Linked DNA regions of Homo sapiens. The protein of the gene in region 1 purifies or fractionates together with the protein of each later gene. This does not show direct contact. Each region holds a gene or a part of one and is shown in the gene's direction. Other genes may lie near its edges.

Region 1 (4,758 bases):
GGATTATTCTCTGCCAGCTCTGGCGGAGTGGATCCCAGTCCCCGTAGCCTCCACTTTCTAATTCCCTACTTCCATCCGCACCGGGTTTCTGGGTGTGTGCCTGTAGGTGGGCTGGGAATATTGCTGAGAGGCCAAGGGAGGTTCCTAAAGCAACGAACCCCTGCCTGACAGATTCCCCGCTAAAACCAAAGAGCACGATCCGGAATTTGTTCCCTCCTCTTCCCTTTAGGCCTGAGAAAGGGGACAGAGTAATCTCTTTCTTGCCTCCTTGTACATTTCCTTCCTCCTGATTTCCCCTTCTGTGTTTCTGTCGCTGGCTGTATTCCTTTTCTTCCGGTGTCTCTGTCGTCTTCCTCCATCTCTGTCCTTTTGGCCCTCAGTCTCTGTGTCTCCCAGGCACCCCTCCCTTCTCCCAATCCAGAGACCCTCTTTCCCTCCCACCCTAGCCCCAACCGGCCTCCCGCCCTAGCCCCACGTGGCGCTAACTTTGTCTGCCTCTTCTCACGTCTCGGTGCGTGAGTTCCTCTCTCTGCCCTTCTCCCCTTTACCCCAGCCCACGTCGGTGGGTCAGGGGCGGTCGTCAGAGCGGGCATCCGCTTGTCTGTCTGTCTGCCCACAGGATGACCGAGCGGCCGCCGAGCGAGGCGGCTCGCAGTGACCCCCAGCTAGAGGGACGGGACGCGGCCGAGGCCAGCATGGCCCCCCCGCACCTGGTCCTGCTGAACGGCGTCGCCAAGGAGACGAGCCGCGCGGCCGCAGCGGAGCCCCCAGTCATCGAACTGGGCGCGCGCGGAGGCCCGGGGGGCGGCCCTGCCGGTGGGGGCGGCGCCGCGAGAGACTTAAAGGGCCGCGACGCGGCGACGGCCGAAGCGCGCCATCGGGTGCCCACCACCGAGCTGTGCAGACCTCCCGGGCCCGCCCCGGCCCCCGCGCCCGCCTCGGTTACAGCGGAGCTGCCCGGCGACGGCCGCATGGTGCAGCTGAGTCCTCCCGCGCTGGCTGCCCCCGCCGCCCCCGGCCGCGCGCTGCTCTACAGCCTCAGCCAGCCGCTGGCCTCTCTCGGCAGGTCAGGGGCCAGGGGCCAGGGGCCAGGGGCTGGGCGGGTGGGCAGGGCGACCACCCCCACCGGGGTTTCCTTCTACACATCGGCGGCGGCCTGCCCTGGGGGCCGAGCGGGTGGAGCGCAGGGAGAGGAGGTCGTTTTAAACCCAGTGGCTCTAGAGCCTCAAGCTGGAGCCCCCGAGTGAGTGCCAGTGAGGGAGGGGCCTTCTGTGAGAGAGAGTGTGCGTGTGGCTGCGGGGTGCATGGCTGTGTGGAAGCCGAGAGGAGGACGTGGACACCTTCGCGGGTGCAGGCATGTGGCTGGTGTGCTTGGTGGTGGTGTCGTGGGGGACGGAGAGGAAGGAGTCCCCTGAGCGTGGGTACCAGGAAAGAGTGTGCCTGCATGTGCTTTGCTGTGAGCAGAGGTAGATGTTTGTGGTGTGAAATTCATTCGGAAACTCAGCGCTAGCTGGACAGGCAAGAGATAAGGATCTGAGGGTGGTGGCAGAGGCACCCTCCCCCGAATCTCTGCTGGAGGGCCCGCCTGAGGACTGACCTGTCCCTCCACTCCCAGCCCCTCTGCTCCTAGCCGTGGTCTCTGGCCCCAGCCTGTACTCCGGTTGGTGTCAGGGCATCCGTTTCCCTGCTGGCGCTACTGTGATGATGAGGGAGAGAAGCCATAGGGTTGGAATAGAAACCGGCAGATGGGGCAGGGATAGAGTGTGGGGCAGTCAATGAACCTGGCGGGCACCCGAGACAGAGCTATGGGGAGCTTAGGGTGGGTGAGGGCAGAGAGCTAGGCGGAGCATTTCAGCTGAGGGGAGTCAGGGTTTCCTGTCTGTTGTGTATCTACAGCCCCTTATGGGTGGGGTGAGGTGGGGAGAGGGGACAGTGTGCCCCTTTGTGGTGACCAAGATGCACACCATCAGGTGTGAAGGTTACATTTGCCTGAGTGGGCATGTGTTTGGGAGTGGAGGTGTGTGTGGATTATGTGCTTGTTTCTGGGGCGGGAGAATGGAGAGTGTTTCTATCTGTGAAGTGTGTGTGTGTGTGTGTGTGTGTGTTCATTTTTGTGTTTATTCCATGTGTTATTCACCTCTGCTTCTGCATATGTGCCTGTGTTTGTGTGGAGGGATGTGTGGTTAGGTGTCTTTTCCTCCCTTTGCTTGTTTTATGACAGACAGAGTGAGGGCATTCCGTGTGTATGTGTGTGTGTGTGTCTGTGTGTGCCTATTCCCAGCTCAAGTGTGAAGGGACCAGGGTTGCCCAGAGGTGGGGGGCTCAAGACATGTGGGGAGGATCCCTAAGGAAGCTCTTTCTCCCCTCCCCTCAACATGGGATCTTGTGATCTGCCCGTTCCCTCCCACAGCGGGTTCTTTGGGGAGCCGGATGCCTTCCCTATGTTCACCACCAACAATCGAGTGAAGAGGAGACCTTCCCCCTATGAGATGGAGATTACTGATGGTGAGTCTGCCCCACCCCACCGTTGTACCTGCCCCTCACGCTGGTTAGAGCCCTCTGGAGGAGGGAACATCTGGGACTACTCCGTAGGTATCTCACAAAGATGGGCGGGCCACTTTCCAAACCCAAACTGCCGAAGCCCTTCACCCTGCAGCTGAGCTAGGGCTAAGTAAAGTCCTGGATGGGGCTAGCAGGACCACACTCACAGTCCTGCAAAGAGGAGGCATGGGAGAGAGACACATAATGGCGCTTAGCCCAAACCTCTGGAGTTAGTTCCCAAACCTTTGGAGTTAGTTCCAGTCCCCAGTCCGGGCTCCATTCCTACACTTTGGCAAGGATCCCAAGTGGGCGCAGAATCACACAGTGTCCCCCGATCCCCCATTCTAGGCACTGACCCTCAGGGATTCCCTGCACTTCCTCCCAAGTCTTCCTTAGAGTCTGGAGTCTGCTTCCTCCCTGCAATGGAGTCATCAAGGGTTTTCTCCGAGGTCCCTACACAGTAGGCTCCCCTTGTCTCCCGTTAACACATTCTGGGCTTAGACCTGGAGTTCCCTTCCTGACATCATGGATTCTACCTTGCCCCCTGGATTCCCCGAGAAGGGCCTTGGCACTGCTCCTTTGAGGTACTTGAATATTCCCTGAACTTGCAGGGGTGGTTTGGACAAATGGGAGATTTGGAAGACCCTCGCCATCTTTCCAAGGTTGACCTTGTATAGTAGATTGGTCCCAGCACCAGGGGTAGGAGAGCAGGCACTTCAGAGCTGAGGGACTTTGAGCCAGACCCAGATGCCCCCAGAACTTCAGCTTGGCTGTGGCCTGGGGCTCCTGTAGGAAGGCTGCCCAAGGCCTCAGAGCAAGGCTGGGATTTATGCTCCAAACTGGTGGGAGGAATATGAGTATGGAGCTGGAGCCTCTGGAGTGGAGCCCTCTGTGGTGTTCTGGAGAGGAGCGGGGCTGGGATCTGCACAACAGAAAAGACTTCAAAAGACCCAAGCAGCCTGGGGCACAGGTGTGCAGGGCTGAGAGGCAGGGGTGCCTTCTGCTAGATTAGAGAGGAGTTCTCTAGTCTAAGAGAGGTGGGTGTACCAAACAGGAAGAAGACAGGACCAGCCCTGAAGTTCCCCAGGGATGAGGCATTTTCTACAATAGGCAGAAGAGGCAGAGCATAGGGGCGAGGGTTTGTGGGGTGTGCAGGAGTGTAGGGCAGTCATTATCCATAAGTGTTGGCAATATTTACCGAGCACCTACTCAGTGCTGGCCAGAGAGAGGCAGAGGACACCAGGAGGGGTAGACAGACTCAGGAAAGAGGAAGGTGAGGAGAGGGGGTGGTTCTCTGGAATAAAACCAGAGAGGAATAGGCAGACATGTAGGCGAAGGGTAGGGTATGAGTGTGCAGGATGTGTCTAGGGGACACTGAAATTAGAGATTGAACCCAAAAAGAGTCCATAGAAGTAGAACTAATGCAAGATCTAGAGTTAGGACTTGATGTGGATTCCTGTTGCTGAATTGCTACTACCATGTATTGGACACCTACTATGTGCCATGGACTATGTGTGCTTGATTTCTGTTTATTCCTTACCACAAGCTCATGAGGGCAATATTATTGTTTACATCTCACAGATAAGGAAATTGAGGCTGAGAGAGGTTACCCAGCTTGATCAAGGTCACACAGCTAAGTCCTGGGTCACACAGCTAAGTCCTGGACCACCCTCATAACACTGGTCTTAAGCTTTGGAATAAGTCCTGACCACTTCCCCACCATCTCCCCTTCTGGATGTAGTCTAGCTCCAGCTGTGACAGCAGTCATAAGTACCCCCTCCCCAACTAGGAGCTCCCTCAAGATCACCAGCATTAGCCATGGTGGAGGGACTGTCCTCCCTATGTCACTGCTGAGGGATGCTCTCTGTCTGGCCTGGAGGCCTGAAAGCAGCAAGTAATTTCCTCAGAGGCCGCCCAGGGTAGAACTGCCCTGCAGTTGTGCTGTGTTTTTCCCAGGCTGGGTCTGGCCTTTGGCAAACAGTCAGCTGGGCTAGGGCCTGCTATGGTTTGGAAAGGCAGCTTCAGAGGTACCATGGGCAGGGGATGGTGATCCTTCCCATTAAAAGTGTGTGTGTGTGAACACCCACACATGCATGTGCATGCCTGTGTGCGTGTAGGAGAGAGAAAGAGATGATCAGGCAGTAAGTGTGGCATGGATGAGCTGATTCACAGACTGACCACTGAGGTGAGGTCTGCTTCCATCCCAGCCTCAGTCTC
Region 2 (4,758 bases), on another chromosome or scaffold:
ACCGTGTTGGCCAGGCTGGTCACGAACTCCTGACCTCAGGTGATCCACCCACCTCGGCCTCCCAAAGTGCTGGGATTACAGGTGTGAGCCACCACACCTGGCCGTATTTCTTAAGATACTTTTCAACATGGGGCCTTACAGCATAATTTTATATTTTGAAATTAGCTGGCTGGGTGTGGTGGCTCATGCCAGTAATCCCAGCACTTTGGGAGGCTGAGGCAGGTGGATCGCTTGAGGTCAGGAGTTCAAGACCAGCCTGGCCAACATGGTGAAACCCCATCTCTACTGAAAATACAAAAAATTAGCTGGGCGTGGTGGTGCGTGCCTTTAATCCCAGCTACTTGGGAGGCTGAGGCAGGAGAATTGCTTGAACCCAGGAGGCGGAGGTTGCAGTGAGCCAAGTTTGCGCCACTGCACTCCAGCCTGGGTGACAGAGCAAGACTCTGTCTCAAATAAAAAGAAAAAAAAAAAAGAAGTTAGGATAATTAAAAATAAAAATCATGTTGGTGATGTAAAAGAATGCGAATAAAGAAGTGGTAAGAGATTAAAGTGAAGAAAGGCTGTAGAATACTATACACTGATTGGCAATATTCAATTCTGTGCTTCATGTTGTTATGGAATAAGGTAACTGTTCTGTCTTTGATATAGAAGTATATTGTTCTCGCTGTTCGTATTACTACATTATGTTGGTTAAGCTGGCGAAAAGTACATTATGATCTTTGGAAAAATGAAAGTTATTAATATTTAATTAAAATAGTTTTAATTTATTAATAAGATGTAAACTTTTAATCTTTCAGACCAGTCTTTGAAGTGGTGAATTAAAACAATTTGTAATTTTTTTTCAAAAGGTGGCCGCTGTTCCTCCAACTCCCCAGCCTTTAGCTCCTACACCTTCAGCACCCTGCCCAGCTACTCCTGCTGGACCAAAGGGAAGGGTGTTTGTTAGCCCTCTTGCAAAGAAGTTGGCAGTAGAGAAAGGGATTGATCTTACACAAGTAAAAGGTAAATCTGTTTCTATAGAATGGACTTTATAAAGTTAAAATTTAGTTGAATTTCCTCCTTAAGACTTGCAAGTACAACTATGTATAGCCGTACTTATAATTGGGATAGTAGGGACAATCATTAATAATTCCTTCAGAAGGGAGAAATAGTTCTTTTGTTGCCACCACAGAGTAGGGAAACTTTTACTGAGCTTTATTTACTCTGCCTAGAATCTACCCATACACTTTAGATACCTTTTTTTTTCCTCTTCTATTCATGGAAACTGCTTGTTTGGTGAAAGTATATGTAAAATTTGGTTATGGGACTTGATTATGTAATAAGAAACCTCTGTTAGTGCTTGGTTGACTGTAGCAATAAGCAAAGCAAAATAAAATTTGAAGTTGGGGTGATTTGGAATGACTTAATAAAATTCATATAAAACAGAACTAGAGCTCCCTGAAGGCAAGGGAAAACGCCTTACTTGTCTGTCTGCCGCCAAAGAAAAAATATAGCTTTGTGATAAGAGCATGGGGCCTGGAATCAGACCACCTAGCATTTAATCCTGGCTTTATAATTTTCTATGTAATATGTTTTCCAGTGAATTACTTAGATTGTATGTCCTTATGTCAATTACTTTTCTATCTGTAAAACTGAGGTACTGTACATCGTATAGATTGTGAGAGTTAAATGAGCTATAACAGGTGAAGTGCTTAGAACTGTATCTAGCATATAAGTACTCAATACATGTTAGTTGTCATTCATATTGATATTACTGCCTGGTGCTTAAATAAGTTTTTTTGAATTAAACTTAAGCTAAAATTTAGTGTAGGATAACTAAGGTACTTATTTGGAATGGGGGGAAGTTATTATGCTTGGAACTTGGTTTGATGGCTTGTACTATGTGTCAGTCATTTAACTTACCATACTTAATGTACACAACACTTCTTGAAGTAAGAATTATCATTCCTTATTTTCTGGATAAGAAAACAGACTCTCAGACTCTTCAGGGTTCTTCCTTCCTGTTAAATAGTAAAGTTGCAGTGTAACTCTAGATTTGTTTAACTCTAAAGCCTGTTTCTTCACACTACCCTATCCTGCCTTCTGTTTTGATGCTCTGCCATCCATAATTACTAAAGAAAAATATGCTTATTTCCCCAATTTTCTAGTTATGGGTACTCAATGGTGGTTATCCCGTATCTGCAATTTGCTATCTTGTAGTTAGAAGTCAAGCCAATCCCAAGACACAAGAGTAGAATGTTGTAAATTTTTTGGACCTCAGAGATTCTTGTAATATTGGAAGATTCTTTTTTTTCCATCTTAATGCCATTTCAGTAGTATATTGCTATCATATATGTATATATGATTAGAATCAGGGACAGCAGTGTAAGTTGGAGTAACTTTTAAAGGGAGAAAGGACTGGGTTAATAATTATATCTAAAGAATTTAGACAAGCAAAGAAGGACCATTTATTAGATATTCAGCAATACTCGTTACCTTACTAAAGATATAAGTGGAAAATCCCTTAGGTATGAGCTGAGAGGAGTGTTAAAAAAAAAAAAGAAAGAAAGAAAATCCCACTGTTCTTACTATGCAGGCAGAGTTAGGTGATAAATATCATCGACTGCTATCTACACATCAGACACTTGTTCATCAGATGGATAAGATTTCAGTTTCAGTTGCTTATATGACCAACAATAAAGAATTAAATGAACAGAAAGGGAGTATAGCATAGTAGTTAAGAGTGTGAGCTCTGTAGCTGGAATGCTTGGGTATGAACCTCAGCTCTTTATACTAGCTGTGTGACCTTTTGTGTCACAATTTCTTTGTATATAAAAACATTAGGTTTAATGGTTGTGAGGTTTAAATAAGTTAACCAGTGCCTGTACAGAGAAAGCATATCTAGGTATTAGCTATAATGATAATAATATTTTTGTTATTAAATAAGATGATTTGAGTGCTAAGAAAGAAAGAAACTCAGTGATATACTAGTGAGTGAAAGGGTGAATGGATATATGTGCAGTCATGACTACTTTTAGACAGGTTGGTTGGGAGATCTTTTTGATGAGGTGACATTTGATTTGTTTTGAAAGATAAGAAGGAGGCAGCTTGAGCCAACCATGTGAAGAACTGGGGAAAGATCATTTTGGATAGAGAGACTAGCTGTACACAGTCTGAAATGGGAAAGAGTTTAGCATGTCTGAGGAACATAAAAGAGGCCAGTGTTGGCCAGGCGCAATGGCTCACGCCTGTAATCCCAGCACTTTGGGAGGCCGAGGCAGGTGGATCACAGGTCAGGAGATGGAGACCATCCTGGCTAACACGGTGAAACCTCGTCTCTACTAAAAATACAAAAAAATTAGCTGGGCATGGTGGCAGGCGCCTGTGGTCCCAGCTACTCGGGAGGCTGAGGCAGGAGAATGGCGTGAACCTGGGAGGCCAAACTTGCAGTGAGCCGAGATAGTGCCACTGCACTCCAGCCTGGGCGACAGAGCAAGACTCCGTCTCAAAGAAAAAAAAAAAAGGCCAGTGTTAATGAAGCATAATGAGCAAAGGGTCTAGTAGGAGATGAGATTGGAAAAAAACAGGGATGAGAACATAAATGACCTTATAGATTATGGTAAAGAGTTTGAATTTTATTTAAAGTACTTGAGGAAGCCATTGAGAAATTTAAGCAAAGAAGTGAAATAAAATGATTATGTTTTGAAAAGATCATTTTGGTTGCTCCATGGAAATGGATGAAACGTTTATATAGTTTATGTTTGACAAGATCCCTACTTTTTGTTACCCATAGTCCAGTGTTGTTCCCTTTATACCATATTGCTTTATGATGGCCTGTTGTGCCGCCCAAGAGAGATAGGGAAAAGGGTTTACAAGGTTTCAACTAACTCCTAAGTCAGGAAATTCTTGTGGGTGGCTGAAGCTTAGCATAAGGCAGGTGGTACTATGGATTTCCTCCTCTTGAGGGACTGTGGTGTCTAGATCAGCCTTGGTTGTAAGGGGAGGTTATGGTTTCTGTCTTTTACAAAGGAGAGAAATCTAATAGGGGTACTACCACCTCTGTTCTAGAGCTCCTAGTGAGGATAAATACAATCCTAGCCAACTCAGTTTTCGTAATGAAGGAAAGGAATTGGGAAGAACTACACACAACAAGAGTCCTTTTTAAAGTCTGCCTTGGGGGAAGATGAATCAGTTTGACCAAATTTTTCCTAGAAGTGGGCCAGTGTAAAAGGTATTCTATAATAATAACTAAATTCTGAATCTCCGTAGAATTAAAGGTCAAGATTATCTACTTGGGTCCAAAATTAAACCTAAGAGGCTGTAGGTGGGAGGAGGGAGGAAATTGAATATAAGTAAAATTAAACCTACTGAGAGAACTTTGAAGATCCTTCCTCATGTGTGACATTGCACCTTTTTCCTTCATTTCCTTTAACACGGGCCAGTTTAGAGCCTTGGCTACTGTGAAAAAGCTATGAGTCATAGAGACCACATAAGGAATGAATGATTCTAAAGATAAGATAATTGCAGTAAAGAGTTATTCGTGCTATTTTGGGGTGAAAAAATCGACTTGATTTGTCAAAACAATTATTGTTATACCTGTAAATTCTGTATAAAAGGAATTCTTTATGGTCACATAAATCCAGAACCCAAATGAAATCTATTTCACGGCTTAGGAATGGTTTTTTGGAGCTAACCAGGAGGAGGCAGCTAGTTTCCCTTTTGGAGATATAAACTGTGCTCGGCATTATCCTTATGCCACATTTCCCAATTTAAAAGTAA
Region 3 (4,383 bases), on another chromosome or scaffold:
TATTTGTCTGTGTGCTCCTCGAGGCTAGGATGGGACCATATCTTATTCACTTTTGTGTCCCCATTGCCTGGTACATACCTCCTTCGTGAATGTTGAATGAATGAATGAAATGCCATATGTATTCAGAACTGGAAGTTCAGAAGAGGGACAAATAACATTTTATTGGGTGTATGAAAATGTGGGTCCATGGTTTTAAGAGTCAGGGAAAAGTTCATCACTATTTAAAGTGTTCCTTAAGTGTTACTTTTCAAGGGCAGAAACTGGGCAGAATGCCAGAGAGACACAACTAGAACTTTTTGAGCCAACAGAGACCTTTGTGTAAGTTGTTAGTTGGATCCATCAGCCTCGCTATCCTAAGCATTCTTCTCTTATTTTACTTTCTAAGCACAGCTGTGTTAGGACTAACCCATTCACAGCCTGGTCACCAATGTTCTATCAGCATCACAGAATACTGTCTCATGGTGTCTAGCTTGATGAACTTGGTTAGGATACTCTCTCTGTTACTCAGCTTTGTCATCTGTAACATGGGGACTAATACAAGGACTAAAACCTTCTATTAGCCATTATCCTTCTTGCCATCTACCCCATGTTAAAGCCAGGCTGATTTGTTCTTGGATCTTAAGTGTGACAAAGCCTGCGGGAAGGAACCACATTCTGAAGGTTTGTGGGCTGTGTGAGATCCAGAGAACCCAAGGGGGTTTTTTTGCTCTTGACAAACGAATGTTAGGTATGACCTATGATGATACAACTTCTGCAAAATTGAGGACCAGCCTATTTCTTCATTAGAAATGCAGGAAACCTGGCCGGGCGCAGGGGCTGACGCCTGTAATCTCAGCACTTTGGGAGGCAGAGGTGGGCGGATCACAAGGTCAGGAGATTGAGACCATCCTGGCTAACTCGGTGAAACCCCGTCTCTACTAAAAATACAAAAAATTAGCTGGGCGTGGTGGTGGGCGCCTGTAGTCCCAGCTACTATGGAGGCTGAGGCAGGAGAATGGCATGAACCTGGGAGGCGGAGCTTGCAGTGAGCCGAGATTGCGCCACTGCACTCCAGCCTGGGCAAAAGAGCAAGACTCCTTCTCAAAAAAAAAAAAAAAAAAAAAAAGAAATGCAGGAAACCTATTTAAAAGTAACAGAAACAGCTGGGTGCATTGGCTCATGCTTGTAATCCCAGCATTTTGGGAGACCGAAGCGAGTGGATTGCTTGAGCCCAGGAGTTCAAGACAAGCCTGAGCAACATAGCAAGACCCCATCTCTACAAAAATGAAAAAATTAGCCAGGCCTGGTGGCATGTGCCTGTTGTCCTAGCTACTCAGGAAATTGAGGCAGGAGGATTGCTTGAGCCCAGGAGTTTTAGGCTGCGGTGAGCTATGATCGTGCCACTGCACAAAACCAAGAATTTAGAAAAAGGAATCCACATAATTGGAAATTGAGTATTAAGTTTTTGCTTCCTAGGAAGGTAGTCTAAATCCTTATACAAAAACTTAGCTATGCAGTGCCAAGGTTGGATTGCTTGTGAATGGGTTTGCATGCTCTGTAACCTATCAGTTATTCTGAATCAAGACTTGAATATTTAAACATACTTGGAAAAGAAAAAGATCAAAAAACAAAATAAACATATTTGGCTATTTAGTAATATAATTAAGAACATGAGTAAACCATAGTATTCGAGGTCCAAGTATTAGTTGCCAGCCTAAAAACTAAATATGGCCAGGCGCAGTGGCTCATGCCTGTAATCCCAGCACTTTGGGAGGCCGAGGCGGGTGGATCACCTGAGGTCAGGAGTTCCAGACCAGCCTGGCCAACATGGCAAAACCCCGTCTCTACTAAAAAAGTACAAAAATTAGCTGGGCGTGGTGGCGGGCACCTGTAATCCCAGCTACTCGGGAGGCTGAGGCAGGAGAATGACTTGAACCCAGGAGGAGGTTGCAGTGAGCTGAGATCACGCCACTGCACTCCAGCCTGGGCAACAGAACAAGACTCCATCTCCAAAAAAAAAAAAAACCTCTAAATATATTGTGTTAATTTATAGAAAAATTGTAATTTAAATTACATATTCATAGTCTTGCCTACTTGCATGAGCATGTTTTTATTGCTTCTAACCTGGATTGAAATCTATGACTTTTTATAACAGTCATTGAGTCTGTTTCAAAGGAATCTTGTGGTAAGTATTTTTGCATGATGTACTCAAGGTATCAAGTTTAACAATTGACTTTTTTTCATTGGAAAGCATATGTGATTAACTAGCATGGATTGCTTCTTGACCTGCTTGTTTTGTGTTTGTCTTTTTCTTCTAATATAATAACCAGGGATTAATGAAAATCAAGTTCCATCCTCAGACAAGAGGTAAAGTTCACACATTCTTCCCATGTCTGTTCAGAAAAGAAACCTATTCAGATATAAGTTAAGCTAATTTAGTAATCCTAGAATTGTCCTCTGAGAGATTTAGATGGATGGGCCACTTCACAGTAGCAGCCAACTCACGGGAGCACCTGGGCAACGCTAGTGGACTTTTTTGTAGTGAGTGTGTTGATCATAGAAAATGTAGATATAAGGAAATAAACTTTGAGGATAGAGAATTAACATTATTTTGAGATATTATATATAGGTTGTGAAGAGTGGTGGTTGTCACACTTTATGGTCTCTGGACCCCTTAATGTCTGATTCATGTAGCAGAAGCCAGCTAGATTTTCATCTGTCTCTATTCATTTTGTTGTGATGTCATGGATCATGTGGCCTCTGGAAAACTCTACTGTATACTCGAGAATGAGAATATAACAGGCAAAATAACATTATCATGAAAATAGTTTTGACCTCATGAACCCCATGAAAGGTTCCCCAGACCAAAATTTTAGAATCACTGGTATAGGGTAACACTTTATTGTGTAAATTCAGTTCTCTGTACCCCACTTAAATATGTATTATTATCTCTTGACATTATTTTCCCAAAAAATGCTGTTTGATTTCTTACTTGTTCTGTACTTTGTTTTTCAGGTAAAGAAGGAAAATTCAGCCAGTTGATTTTGTTTTTAGCTTACTGCTGCCTTTGTCCGAAGAAACTGTTCCTCCATTATTTGAATTACTGAAGACAGCAAGATATTTGTAAATTATCTTAAAATAAACAACTTAAAATAAAATCATTGTTTTTCTTATATATAAGAACAATAGATATAGTTTTTGAAATGAGATGATACTAAAACATTTAAAAATATTAATATGCTACTATTAAAATTTTTTAGTAGAAGACAATTTAAGAGGCTCTTTTGATTTGGTAGTGCTCCACTGACCTTAAAATGTCTAGCCTCTATGGGGACAACGTAGAGGGAAAGGGCTGCAGCCACAGCCTCAGCCCAGTTCTGTGCCTTATTACAGCCTTAAAGAACAGTCAACAAGACCAGGCACGGTGGCTCATGCCTGCAGTCCTAACACTTTGGGAGACTGAGACTCAAGGTGGATCACTGGAGGTCAGGAATTTGAGACTAGCCTGGCCAACATGGTGAAACCCTGTTTCTACTAAAAACAAAACAAAATACAAAAATGGTGCACACTTGTAATCCCAGCTACTCAGGAGGCTGAGGCAGGAGAATCGGTTAAACCTGGGAGGCAGAGGTTGCAGTGAGCTGAGATCGCGCCACTGTACTCCAGCCTGGGCAACAGAGTAAGACTCTGTTCCAAAAAAAAAAAAAAAATGCCACAGGAAGCATTTGCTTGGAATTCTGGATACAAAATTGCAAGCATATACTTACTCTAAATTATTTAAAACATCTTTTCTAAACACTGAGAAAAGTACGATACTCACATTTAGATCACAATTAAGATTAGATGCCTGCGTTGACTCCACACTCTGAGTTGGCCATGCCAAAATTTCAGGCTTTTCCCTATTTGTTTAAAATTGATAACTTAGTTTTTTGGGTTTTTTTTAATTACAAAAGTAATATATAAATTCCAAAATACATAAAATTATAAACAATATAAAACCCATTCTTAACAAGCTCCTCTTTTAAAAACAAATGAATGCATGTATTTAGAATGGATTCTTTAAATATTTACAGCTATATTCGTGGTAATGAATAAAAAGGTTCAGTGAACTGACCAGAGCTTCAAAGTCATTTTCTAACTCCCCTCAAAGTTTTCAGGAGCCACTTCTGAAGGGGTTGGTGGCTGAGACTAGGAGAAAGAAACAGCTCACAACTGAGGAATCAGATGGAGGTGTAGTGTGAACCAGTACAAGATACCTTTTGGGAATGTTAGCAACGAACCACGTGCCTCTGGAGGCTGTGTGTATGTGTGTGTGTGTGTGTGCACGCCACTATACCTGGCTAATTTAAAAAAAAATTTTTTTTTTAGAGATGGGGTCTTGCTATTTTGCCCAGTCTGGTCTTG
Region 4 (4,758 bases), about 19 Mb from region 1:
TCCCAGCACTTTGGGAGGCTGAGGCGGGTAGATCGCTTGAGCCCAGGAGTTCTAGACCAGCCTGGGCAACTTGGCAAAACCCTGTCTCTACAAAATATATAAAAATTAGCTGGACACTGTGATGCGCACTTGTAGTCCCAGCTATTCTAGAGGCTGAGGTGGGAGGATCACCTGAGCTCAAGAGGTCAAACCTGCAATGAGCCGTGATTGTGCCACTGCACTTGAGCCTGGGCAACAGAGAGTGAGATGCTGTCTCAAAAAAACAAACAAACAAACAAACAAAAACAAGTACTTGATGACTCCATTGGGGTCAATTATGAAGAGACCTCTTAGTGCAAGACCAGGACCTTCTAACAGCACACCGAAGTCTCGAGAAATTCGCTTAGTTAAATCTGACAAGGGTGCGATGTTTATGTGGCCCAAAGCACCATTCTTTCTTGGTGTATTTATCCAGGCAAGACGGCTAAAGTGGGAATCCACTGAGACTGCAACAACTTCAAAGTTCACATCGTGAAATTCCTTAGCTTTGTCACTAGAAGCAACAATTTCTGTAGGACACACAAAGGTGAAATCCAAAGGATAGGGCTGGGCGCGGTGGCTCACACCTGTAATCCCAGCACTTTGGGAGGCTGAGGTGGGTGGATCACCTGAGTTCAGGAGTTCAAGACCAGCCTCACCAACATGGTGAAATCCCATCTCTACTAAAAATACAAAAATTAGCCAGGCGTCGTGGCAGGCGCCTGTAATTCCAGGTACTCAGGAGGCTGAGGCAGGAGAATTGGCTTGAACCCAGGAGGGGGAGGTTGCAGTGAGCCGAGATCGTGCCACTGCACTCCAGCCTGGGTGACACAGCAAGACTCCGTCTCGGAAAAAAAAAAAAAAAGAAAGAAATCCAAAGGATAGAAGAAAAGCACCAAATATTTCCCCTCAAAGTCATCAAGGCTTAGGTCTTTGAACTCTCCATTGACCACGGCTGTACCCTTAAAATAGGGCGCATGCTGGGTGACATCAGGTGCATGGTATGAGGAACTGGTACCAGAATTTTGCTTGACCGGAACCAGACCACAATATGTTTGTCAAACTTGTTCTTCCAGAAGCAGCAGGCCTGAGGGCTGCAGTGGCAGAAATGCCCCCAAGGAATGGCACTCACATGCCGGGCAACTGATGCTCAGAGTAACCTTCCCACAGCAGCCGCGATCTTCAGTGCATGTGTGTTTTTGTTTTTTTGAGACAGTGTCTGTCTCTTTCGCCCAGGCTAAAGTACAGTGGCACAATCTCAGCTCAATTTAGCCTCAGCCTCCCAGGCTCACGCCATCCTCCCACCTCAGCCTCCTGAGTAGCCAGGACTTCAGGCGTGCACCACCATGCCCGGCTAATTTTTGTAATTTTTTGGATAGAAATGGGGTTTCGCCATGTTGCCCACGCTGGTCTTGAACTCCTGGGCTCAAGCGATCCTCCTGCCTCGACTTCCCAAAGTGCTAGGATTACAGGTGTGGTGGCACCTTGTCTCTAAAAAAAATCAATCAATTAAATAAGAAAAGAAAATAGCTCTTCTCCCCCTCTGATTATAACAACACATTACCAAAGTTACTGGTGCTTACATGGGGTTGAATGGAGTTATGATGGATATTTCATTTAATGTTGTTCTTCAATGTTTTAATTTTTTACAACAGACTTAAAAATTTTTTAAATACATGTGGCCAGGCACGATGGCTCACGCCTGTAATCCCGCACTTTGGGAGGCCAAGGTGGGTGGATCATCTGAGGTCAGGAGTTCAAGACCAGCGGGACCAACATGGAGAAACCCCATCTCTACTAAAAATACAAAATAAGCCGGGCGTGGTGGCACATGCCTGTAATCCTAGCTACTCCAGAGGCTGAGGCAGGAGAATCACTTGAACCTGGGAGGTAGAGGTTGTGGTGAGCCGAGATTGCGCCATGGCACTCCAGCCTGGGCAATAAGAACAAAACTCTGCTTCAAAAAAAAAAAAAAAAAAACATGTAATCGGCTGTACGCAGTGGCTCACGCCTGTAATCCCAGGACTTCGGGAGGCTGAGGCAGGTGGATTACTTGAGATTAGGAGTTTGGGACCAGCCTGGCCAACATGGTGAAACCCCGTCTCTACTAAAAATACAAAATTTGGGCTGGGCACAGTGGCTCACGCCTATAATTCCAGCACTTTGGGAGGCCAAGGCGGGGTGGATCACTGAGATCAGGAGTTCGAGACCAGCCTGGCCAAACTGGTGAAACCTCGTCTCTACTAAAAATACAAAAATTAGCTGGGTGTGGTGGTGGGTGCCTGTAATCCCAGCTACTCGAGAGGCTGAGGCAGGAGAATCACTTGAACCCAGGAGGCAGAGGTTGCATGAGCCGAGATCGCACCATTGCACTCTAGCCTGGGTGACAGAACGAGACTCCATTTCAAAAAAACAAAAACAAAACAAAACTTAGCAGGGCATGGTGATGCACACCTGTAATCTCAGCTACTCGGAAGGCTGAGGCACAAGAATTGCTTCAACCCGGGAGGTGGAGGTTGCAGTGAGCTGAGATCATGCCTGTGCGCTCCAGCCTGGCGACAGAGTGAGACTCCGTCTCAAAAAACAGAAAAATACATGTAATGCTCCTTGTTAAACATCTTAGATAATATAGGAAGATAAAACGAAACAAGTAATGATTATCTATAATACCATTTTCCGAGGTTACCATTGTTAATATGGGATATATTTTCTTCCCCACATTTTTCTCACATATTTTTTGTGTATGCATTTTTTTTCCAAAAAAAAAAAAAATGGATGATAGGCTGTTTTTCTTCCTTTTTTTTTTTTTTTTTTTTGGTTGGGGGGTGGAGTTTCACTACTCTTTCTCCCAGGCTGGAGTGCTGAGTGCAATGGCATGATCTTGGCTCACCGCAACCTCCACCTCCTAGGTTCAAGCAATTCTCCTGCCTCAGCCTCCCAAGTAGCTGGGATTACAGTCGCACACCACCATGCCTGGCTAATTTTTGTATTTTTTTTTTTTTTTTTGGTGGCGACGGGGTTTCACCATGTTGGCCAGGCTGGTCTCGAACTCCTGACCTCAAGTGATCCACCCACCTTGGCCTCCGAAAGTGCCAAAGTACTGGGATTACAGGCGTGAGCCACCGCGCCCAGGCTTTTTTTTTTTTTTTTTTTTTGAGACAGTCTGGCTCTGTTGCCCAGGCTGGAGTGCAGTGGCTCGATCTTGGCTCACCACAACCTCCACCTCGCGGGTTCAAGCGATTCTCCTGCCTCAGCCTCCTGAGTAGCTGGGATTACAGGTGCCCATCACTGTGCCTGGCTAATTTTTGTATTTTTAGTAGAGACGGGGTTTTGCCATGTTGGCCAGGCTGGTTTGGAACTCCTGATCTCAGGTAATCCGCCCGCCCCGGCCTCCCACAGTGTTGGGATTACAGATGTGAGCCACCACACCTGGCCGTCTGTTTTTCATTCTGCTTGTTTTACTTGGCAATGGGGAACATCTTTCTATTCAATAGATTGATCTCTGAAAACATCACTTTTGATGGCTTCATACTGTTCTATCATGAATATACCACATATTTAGTTCACTACTATTGAACATTCGGGTTCTGTTTTTGTTGTTTTTAAAATGTTATGAAGGATACAGTAGAGAATATTTGTGTAATTAATCTGTGGGTGCATCCATTATTCTGTTCTTGGGATACATTTTGAGAAGTGGAATTGTTGGGCAATTCCTCTTAACGTATTTCTAGAGTGTTTGATAAATATTGTCTGATTGGCCCAGGAAAATGTTTGCCATTTCTCATATGTAGTATTTGACTGACTTTCAGGACAGGAAGATGTCACCCAAGCGCATAGCTAAAAGAAGGTCCCCCCCAGCAGATGCCATCCCCAAAAGCAAGAAGGTGAAGGGTAAGTTGGCCTTGGCCTCTTTGTGGGTACAGGTGGCCCCTTGAAACCCTAAGAACCCGGGACTGGGCTCCTTTCTTCCTGAGGCTTGAAGCTGAAGGGTGTGGATGTGCAGAGACCCCACCCAGCTGGAAGGTTTCCTGTAGCTCATTGAATCCTACCCTCTGGGAATCACAAAGTGGGCAGAAACTCCTCTCAAAGCACTCAGGCAGCACTGGCACAAAAAAAAAAAAAAAAAAACTAGACCCTAGGGCTTCACCCCAGGCAGTGATGCATTATGGTTAGGACCACTGACTTTCCGACATGGGTTCAAGTCCTTGCTCTGCCACTTTCTAGCTGCTGGGCAAGTCACTTAATCCCGCAGTTTGGATTATCAACTTCTTAAAATGGCGGCAGCCAGAGCAGCGTCACCCTCTCTGGGCTGTGTGAGGATGAGATGAGATAATGGCCTGGCAGCATTTGAGGGAGGTGGCTGTGGTTTCCTCTGTCCTGGGACCCCGGAGGGGGACAGGGAGGAGAGAAAAGCCAGCACCAAACTGGGAGGGGAAGTGTGGACCCACGCTCAGACAGTGTCTGTCTTTTGCAGACACGAGGGCCGCTGCCTCCCGCCGCGTTCCTGGCGCCCGCTCCTGCCAAGGTGCCTGCGGGCCGAGCCCTCCTGACCAGAAAACCCGACCAGGTGGCTCCGCGCCCGGGGCGCCCTCTGTGCTGCCAGCGCGGGCTCCTCAGCGGTGGCCACATCCTCGGGGGAGGGGCTGGGCGCCATTGGCTGCCCGGGGCTGCGGGTTGGGGGGCCGCCTTTGGCCCACAGAGAGCCCCGGGCGCGCACCTCCCGCAAATGCCGCTGTCCGC

Evidence for each region.
Region 2: the proteins of TAL1 (region 1) and DLAT purify together in Homo sapiens (affinity purification with mass spectrometry; one large-scale study listed by BioGRID and IntAct). This does not show direct contact.
Region 3: the proteins of TAL1 (region 1) and ATP5F1C purify together in Homo sapiens (affinity purification with mass spectrometry; one large-scale study listed by BioGRID and IntAct). This does not show direct contact.
Region 4: the proteins of TAL1 (region 1) and RCC1 purify together in Homo sapiens (affinity purification with mass spectrometry, with the first as the bait; one study listed by BioGRID). This does not show direct contact.

The regions. Positions count from the first base shown.
Region 1 is NC_000001.11:47,221,751-47,226,508, reverse strand, and holds part of TAL1 (T-cell acute lymphocytic leukemia protein 1), read left to right. Parts: intron 1-619; 5' UTR 620-620; coding exon 621-1,066; coding exon of another isoform or gene 1,067-1,243; intron 1,244-2,410; coding exon 2,411-2,505; intron 2,506-4,758. UniProt on the Homo sapiens protein: Implicated in the genesis of hemopoietic malignancies. It may play an important role in hemopoietic differentiation. Serves as a positive regulator of erythroid differentiation.
Region 2 is NC_000011.10:112,038,396-112,043,153, forward strand, and holds part of DLAT (dihydrolipoyllysine-residue acetyltransferase component of pyruvate dehydrogenase complex, mitochondrial isoform 2 precursor), read left to right. Parts: intron 1-848; coding exon 849-1,002; intron 1,003-4,758.
Region 3 is NC_000010.11:7,804,665-7,809,047, forward strand, and holds the end of ATP5F1C (ATP synthase F(1) complex subunit gamma, mitochondrial isoform L (liver) precursor), read left to right. Parts: intron 1-2,309; coding exon 2,310-2,316; 3' UTR 2,317-2,346; exon of another isoform or gene 2,347-2,352; intron 2,353-2,994; coding exon of another isoform or gene 2,995-2,998; 3' UTR 2,999-3,137; downstream 3,138-4,383.
Region 4 is NC_000001.11:28,526,031-28,530,788, forward strand, and holds part of RCC1 (regulator of chromosome condensation), read left to right. Parts: intron 1-327; exon of another isoform or gene 328-583; intron 584-903; exon of another isoform or gene 904-1,208; intron 1,209-3,827; 5' UTR 3,828-3,836; coding exon 3,837-3,909; intron 3,910-4,492; coding exon of another isoform or gene 4,493-4,585; intron 4,586-4,758. UniProt on the Homo sapiens protein: Guanine-nucleotide releasing factor that promotes the exchange of Ran-bound GDP by GTP, and thereby plays an important role in RAN-mediated functions in nuclear import and mitosis.